2 linked regions of the Homo sapiens genome follow. The protein of the gene in region 1 purifies or fractionates together with the protein of each later gene. This does not show direct contact. Each region holds a gene or a part of one and is shown on either strand. Other genes may lie near its edges.

Region 1 (3,781 bases):
ATGAAACCCCGTCTCTACTAAAAATACAAAAATTAGTTGGGCGTGGTGTCAGGTGCCTATAATCACAGCTACTCGGGGGTCTGAGGCAGGACAATCGCTTGAACCTGGGAGGTGGGGGCTGCAGTGAGCCAAGATTGTGCCTAGGCAACTCCAGCCTAGGCAACATAGCAAGACTTCGTCTCAAAAAAAAAAAAAAAAAAAGATAATAGCATATTACCTCTAGCTTCAACTATTGACATGTTGGATTTTAGATTCTAGAATGATCAGAGAATATCTGGTCATGAAAGTGAGGGGAAGAGATGTGGTTAAAACCTACAAGACTCTCCACCTGCCTTAAGACTAGTCACAACCATATTATAAACATGATCTTGAACGATAAAAAATTTTACAACATATAAGATGTATCAAGGTTACAAAGACAGTTCTTCATGAATTATAATTTTAAAAAATACCCAGCCGCTCCCTGATTCCGATCCCCAGAGGCGACTACTTTTACTACTTATAGTTGTTTCTTTGATTATTTCCTTCCATAATTCTAAGTAACATGCTTGGCCGGGTGCAGTGGCTCATGCCTGTAATCCCAGCACTTTGGGAGGCCAAGGAGGAAGGATCACTTGAGGTCAGGAGTTCGAGACCAGTTTGGGCAACATAGCAAGACCTCCTCTCTACTTTATTTTTATTATTTATTTATTTATTTATTTATTTATTTATTTATTTATGTTTTTGAGACAGAGTCTCCGCCTGTCACCCAGGTTGGAGTGCCGTGGTACAATCTCAGCTCACTGCAACCTCCGCCTCCCAGGTTCAAGCAATTCTTGTGCCTCAGCCTCCCAAGAAGCTGGGATTACAGGCATGAGCCACCACCCCCAGCTAATTTTTGTATTTTTAGTAGAGATGGGCTTTCGCCATGTTGGCCAGGCTGGTCTCAAACTCCTGGCCTCAAGTGATCTGCCTGCCTCAGCCTCCCCAAAGTGCTGGGATTACAGGCGTGAGCCACCGCGCCTGGCCTCACCTTCCTGTTTTAACAGCTGCACTATTCTCTCGTGAGCTGGTGTCCCATAATTCACGTAACCAGCACCCACAGATGGACATCGCGTCTTTAGCTCTTCCCCAGGACGCTGCAGTGACTCCTGGACACATACTTTTGTGCACACCTGTGGATATAACAGTGGTATACATGTGTAGAAGGGGGAGTTTCTGGAAAATGCCATCCTTCGAATCTCTGTCCAGCGTTTCCCTTGACTGTCTTCCTGGCAGGAGGAGTTTCGCTCCTGGTAGCTGGTATTTTAGGCGAGGGGACAGAGCTATGATGGGCTGTTCCAGGGCTAAAACCACTTCACTGAGCTCATTCAAAGTGCGTGTGTGTGTCCAGGTCTATAATACGCTGCGCCACGCCGTGGGGACCATGTATAGGAGCGAAGGCCCCCAGGTTTTCTACAAAGGCTTGGCTCCCACCTTGATCGCCATCTTCCCCTACGCCGGGCTGCAGTTCTCTTGCTACAGCTCCTTGAAGCACCTGTACAAGTGGGCCATACCAGCCGAAGGAAAGAAAAATGGTGAGGCAGCCCTCACACGAGAGGGAGCCCTCCCACCCCAGCCACCAGAACACCCCCTTCCAAATCACAAAGGAGCTAAAGTTCTCCTGTCCGAATCAAAGACCGCGGGTCTCTGTACCTGGCTCTGTAATGTGGCAAACAAAACAACTGCAGCTGCTTGGAGAGGACTTGATTTCTTCCAGCTCCTGCCACACCCATCACTGGCATTACTGAAATTTACTTCCAGTGATTGGTCATGGTTTTCATTTTTGTCAGAAGTCCAAATTGCAAATTGCTTGTTTTTTGGTTGAGGTTCTTCAGTTGCTTTTTCCAGGCAGGGGGAGTGGGAGATGGGGGCAGGGGGAGGCTGGGGAGGGGTGGGGCATCCTGGTCCTCTCCAGCCCTGAACTGAGTCATGCTGCAGAGCCTGAGGCCCATGTTGCCTCCAGCTGGGGGACTGCGGCCTCCAACCCTTCCAGCCCGGATCACTCCACCAGAAGTGGCCGTGTCTGGCTCTTCTCCCCCTAGATTACATTCCTTTTTGGAATGGGAGGACCAGTGGAGGTCAGATAGAAGTGCGCTTGTGGGGTTTGGTTTGTGGTGGAGGATTAGCCCTGACGCCTTTTAAGTTGTCACCCATAGACTGCATTTCTCTCATCCATTCTCCCAATCCCACTTCTCTGGTTCAGAGAACCTCCAAAACCTGCTTTGTGGCAGTGGAGCTGGTGTCATCAGCAAGACCCTGACATATCCGCTGGACCTCTTCAAGAAGCGGCTACAGGTTGGAGGGTTTGAGCATGCCAGAGCTGCCTTTGGCCAGGTGAGCCGTTCACTCCCAGGCAGACAGCTCTGACCCTTGCCATCACTGGGCACATGAGGGAACCAGTAGTCACCTCCTACCCATTGGGCAACATCACCCCTGGCCATGGCCCCTTCACCTGCGTCCATTCCTTGAGATCCCTAAGCATGTGGGAAAGCTGCATGCAAGCCCTGGGTCCTGAGCACTGTGGAAGGATCTGGGCCAAGGACATACAGTGTCTGCTCTTTTTTTTTTTCTTTAAAATAGAGGCAGGGTCTCACTCTGTTTCCCAGGCTGGTCTTGAACCCTCCTGACTCCACCTCCCAAAGTGCTGGGATTACAGGTGTGAGCCACTGCACCTAGCACAATTTCTGCTCTTAAAACATATCCTGGCCGGGCGTGGTGGCTCACACCTGTAATCCCAGCACTTTGGGAGGCCAAGGTGGGTGGATCACGAGGTCAGGAGATCGAGACCATCCTGGATAACACGGTGAAAGCCCATCTCTACTAAAAAAAAAAAAAAACAAAAAAATTAGCCGGGCGTGGTGGTGGGCACGTGTAGTCCCAGCTACTCGGGAGGCTGAGGCAGGAGAATGGTGTGAACCCGGGAGGTGGAGTTTGCAGTGAGCTGAGATTGCGCCACTGCACTCCAGCCTGGGCAACAGAGCAAGACTCCATCTCAAAAAAAAATATGTCCAGAGGCTGGGCGTGGACGTGGTGGCTCACTCCTGTAATCCCAACATTTTGGGAGGCCGAGACGAGTGGATCACCTGAGGTCAGGAGTTCTAGACCAGCCTGATCAACATGGTGAAACCCCGTTTCTACTAAAAATATAAAAATTAGCTGGGTATGGTGGTGGGCGCCTGTAGTCCCAGCTACTCGGGAGGCTGAAACAGGAGAATCGCTTGAACGTGAGAGGTGGATGTTACAGGGAGCCACGATTGCACCACTGCATTGCAGCCTGGGCAACAGAGCAAGGAAGGTCCCCAAATATTAAAGCACACAGAAAAGGGGTTTTGCTGTAGCTGTTCTGGAATTGGGTGAATTTGAGCAACTAGGTTATATATATATGTATTTTTTTGTTTTTGTTTTTGTTTTGAAACGGAGTTTTGCTCTTGTTGCCCAGCCTGGAGTGCAATGGCACGATCTCGGCTCACTGCAACCTCTGCCTCCCGGGTTCAAGCAATTCTCCTGCCTCAGCCTCCCAAGTAGCTGGGATTACAAGCGCGTGCCACCACGCCCAGCTAATTTTTTGTATTTTTAGTAGAGACGGGGTTTCACCATGTTGGCCAGGCTGGTCTCGAACTCCTGACCTCAGGTGATCCACCTGCCTCGGCCTCCCAAAGTGCTGGGATTACAGGCATGAGCCACTGTGCCCAGCCATATATATATATATATTTTTTGAGACGGAGTCTCGCTCTTTTGCCCAGGCTGGAGTGCAGTGGCG
Region 2 (3,810 bases), on another chromosome or scaffold:
TTTATGTGGGCACCAATGAGAGGAAACTGCCTTTGGGACCTCCTTGTCCAATTATGTTTGCAGCCCTAAGGAGATCTGGGCTTGAGTGGGGAGATTGGGACATGATGCTTTGGGGCTAGGTGATGGGGAGAAAGGGTCAGCTATAAGAAAAGAGGCTCCGTTGAGAGAGAGTCATGGGAGAAAGCAGGTTTAGGGGTAGCCCTGACTTGTTTGAGGGGATGGTACAACTGCCCAGAGGGGCCATGTGGGGTCTAGGTTGCCAGCACCCACACTTGGGAGTCGTTGATGCAAGGCTGCTGTGGGGAGGTAGACATCAGTTGTGCAGAAGGTTGGGTTTGAGTGCCAAGGTTCTCTGGTTGGGAGGGAAGGATGGCCAGAGGGGTTCAGGCCAAGGCAGTGGGCTGTGGCACAGGTCAGCTGCTCAGGTGCTGAGGAGATGCTTCTGTGGGGCAGGAGTCAGGGCCCCCTGTCGGTTCCTGACCCCGAGCCTGTATCCACATCTGCACAAGGGCTGCCACTGGCCCTATCTCCTGGGCTGTCCTTAGCTGGACCTGCTTCACCACCCTGCGGCTATGGGCAGGAGAGACTCTGAATCCGCTGCCCCTTCCTCTCCTTCCTCTTTCTAGCTGTCTCAGGGCAGTGGGGCTCAGGAATGGAGGAGGCATGACTCTGCACAACATGGAGCTGCCTAAGGTCTGCCCTCCAGAGGGGCTGAACCTGGGAACCTTCCCTCGGGCAGCATTTTACCCCATTCCAGGGAGTCAGAGAAACCAGCCACACAAGTTGGAGTGTGACCATGACCCTCTGCTTTGGGTCCTCGTGGTTTCTTTTTATAGAGCGGTGGGCCACCTCCAGTGGCCCCAGCTCACTCGGGGCCTGCCGCTCAGCCCTCTGCTAAGGCCAGGCCTCCACATTCTTACCCGGAACCTTCTGTCTAGACAACCAGGGCTGAGATGGGGGTGGAAGGGTGGCAGGAGTCAGGAGCCAGGAGCTGGGGGTCTCTAGAGAATACCACTGAGGCAGAAGGGAGGAGGCCTCAGAGTCTCAGTCCCTTTGAAACCCACCCCTGAGCCCCACGGGGGGGTTGTGTGAGTGAGGGCCGGCTCCTTTAGCAGGGTCCATGCATGAGTCCCACACGTGGGTGTGTGAGGAGCAGGGGTGAACATGGAGGGCTACGAGCCCAGCTGATAGAGAAGGCTCCTCTGAGGGAGCATGCTTGTGAGGGGTTTGGACCAGACGTGGCCCTACTTGAGTCCTGCATCAGTGGGAGGGCCTGGGAGGACTAGGCAGGGGCAGCATCCCCCGTCTCCTAGAGCTGGCTGCAGGAACAGACACACTTTCCAATCTGGTCCTCTGGGACCATCTGGGGCCTCCTCCTGAGTAGGAAAACAGGTGGGCCCTTATGGGTAGCAACCACAGCCCCTGGGGCCACCTATGCCAGGAGACATGGAGCCCTCAGCCCAGGCATCCCTGGCCATCCCAGGTGGAGCAAAGCTACAGAGTGGAAGGGCCTTTCCCCCTGGGGGCATCGGGCTCCCTCTGGGGAAACTTGGCCTGGAGTTGGTGCTCGGGTGTACTCAGGGTGTGTCTGAGATTTGTTGAGAATTCAGACATCGGGTGGGGCTGCTTCACTGTTTTAACTCAGATTTAGCGCCCACCCCGCAGCTTGACCTTTCTTCCCCAGTGGGCTCATGTCTTGCTTTATTTCTCTCTTGGCAGAATGCAGAGCCAGAGCCCCGGAGCCTCTCCCTGGGCGGCCATGTGGGTTTCGACAGCCTCCCCGACCAGCTGGTCAGCAAGTCGGTCACTCAGGGCTTCAGCTTCAACATCCTCTGTGTGGGTGAGTGTCAGGGCCTGGCCTCAGACAGAGGGTGGGTGAGAACCTCCTGGGAGAGGGGGTGCTTCTGGCCCCCTGTTGAGCTGCAAGGGGGCTTCCCAGGCAGAGTGAAACTTTGGGGGTGTCAGGACGAGGATTTGGTTGGTGTCTCTGCCAGAGTCAAGGATAGAGTTAGAGCCAGGGCCTGACACAGCATTGTCATGAAGAGTAAACTGGATCGGGCACATGAAAGTGCTTTGTAAACTGTGGGTGTTTATCACAGAGATTTAGGTTCATTTATTCATTTGTTTGTTCATTTAAAAAACATGTACTCATTTACTGCTTCCCACCCTGTGTCAAGGACGTTATGGTAAACAGCTCTGCCCCTCATCACCATATCCTATGGTAAGTGCTCCAGCACGCATGTGAACAAATAACAGCCCCAAGCAGAGAGGCTCTCGGAGGTTCCCTGGGACTCCCAGAAGGACACAAAGTGCTCTTCTGGTCCCTCTGCAGGTGTCCTTCGGGAAGCAGCCCATCCTGAGTTCCCCCAGCTAAAGCCATGTGGAGCTAGGGCTGTCCGGGGCGCATGGGTTGAGCCACTGGTGGCTTTAGACCCTGGCCCTCTTGGTCCCATGACCACCCTGGTCCCAGGAGGGGTGTTGTGTAGAGCAGGTTATGTGTGAGGTGATTGGGTCTGCAGTGGTGTCTACACAGCTGCCTGGCTCTGTCTCTTCCCTGCTCCCTGAGGAAATACATCACATATCACACACAGCTATGTCTTCTGTCCAAGTTCACCTTTTGGCTCTTCCTTCCACAGGTTATTTCTGAGGCCACAGGAAAAGATAGTTCCTGGGGAATGGGGGTGATGAGGGATGGGGTGGGCGGCCTGCCCCTTTCTCTTATCCAGGGGCCATGGATGCCTGAGCCCTGCCTGGCCTAGCCACCAGTCAAGGACAGCCCATTTCCAGCCTATGACACCCACTTCTTCCCCTCCTGTCCTCACTGCCCAGGGGAGACCGGCATTGGCAAATCCACACTGATGAACACACTCTTCAACACGACCTTCGAGACTGAGGAAGCCAGTCACCATGAGGCATGCGTGCGCCTGCGGCCCCAGACCTATGACCTCCAGGAGAGCAACGTGCAGCTCAAGCTGACCATTGTGGATGCCGTGGGCTTTGGGGATCAGATCAATAAGGATGAGAGGCAAGAGGCGGGAAGGGCGGCCCCACCCAGCCTCCTCCCACCCCACCTACATTGGCCCCTATAACAGTAGCCCAGCCCTCACACTGCAGGGGGCCAGGGAGGGCCTCTTGGGGAATATCTGAGGCTCTGTGGTCACCAACAGACCAGTTACTCCTTTAGGTGTCTGGAGAAGGGGTCAGCTGCCTGTATCCAGTCAGGGATCTCAGGCAGAAGCTGTTCCCAGAAAGAAAAGGCCAGGGGGCAGCCTGGCTTGGCCCCGAGCCCTGAGCCCCCCAAGCCCCAAGCCCCTGATCTCAGCTGGCAGCCTCCTGGGTGATGGAGCTGTCTGTAGTTACAGGCCCATAGTTGACTACATCGATGCGCAGTTTGAAAATTATCTGCAGGAGGAGCTGAAGATCCGCCGCTCGCTCTTCGACTACCATGACACAAGGATCCACGTTTGCCTCTACTTCATCACGCCCACAGGGCACTCCCTGAAGTCTCTAGATCTAGTGACCATGAAGAAACTAGACAGCAAGGTATCCCTGTCCCCACCTGCTGTCACAGGCTCCATAGTCTTCTGCTGCGATGCGATGTGGTGGCTGCCTCATGCCTGAACACCATGGTCCTCAGGGACCTGGTCGGGGGCTTGTGGGTGGCCCCCCATTGGCTCGGTCCTCTCTCTGTCTTGCGTCTGTTCCTCCTGCTCCAGTGGCCCCCAATGCTCTGGGCTCATTCTCCAGAGTCCTGTGCCCTGGGTCTGACCCTGAGCCCCTTGCTTGCAGCTGAATCATTCTCATTGTCAG

The links.
Region 2: the proteins of SLC25A19 (region 1) and SEPTIN8 purify together in Homo sapiens (affinity purification with mass spectrometry; one large-scale study listed by BioGRID and IntAct). This does not show direct contact.

Annotation. Positions count from the first base shown.
Region 1 is NC_000017.11:75,275,927-75,279,707, reverse strand, and holds part of SLC25A19 (mitochondrial thiamine pyrophosphate carrier), read left to right. Parts: intron 1-1,372; coding exon 1,373-1,556; intron 1,557-2,224; coding exon 2,225-2,355; intron 2,356-3,781. UniProt on the Homo sapiens protein: Mitochondrial transporter mediating uptake of thiamine diphosphate into mitochondria. It is not clear if the antiporter activity is affected by the membrane potential or by the proton electrochemical gradient.
Region 2 is NC_000005.10:132,763,439-132,767,248, reverse strand, and holds part of SEPTIN8 (septin-8), read left to right. Parts: intron 1-1,719; coding exon 1,720-1,840; intron 1,841-2,829; coding exon 2,830-3,025; intron 3,026-3,356; coding exon 3,357-3,543; intron 3,544-3,810. UniProt on the Homo sapiens protein: Filament-forming cytoskeletal GTPase. May play a role in platelet secretion. Seems to participate in the process of SNARE complex formation in synaptic vesicles.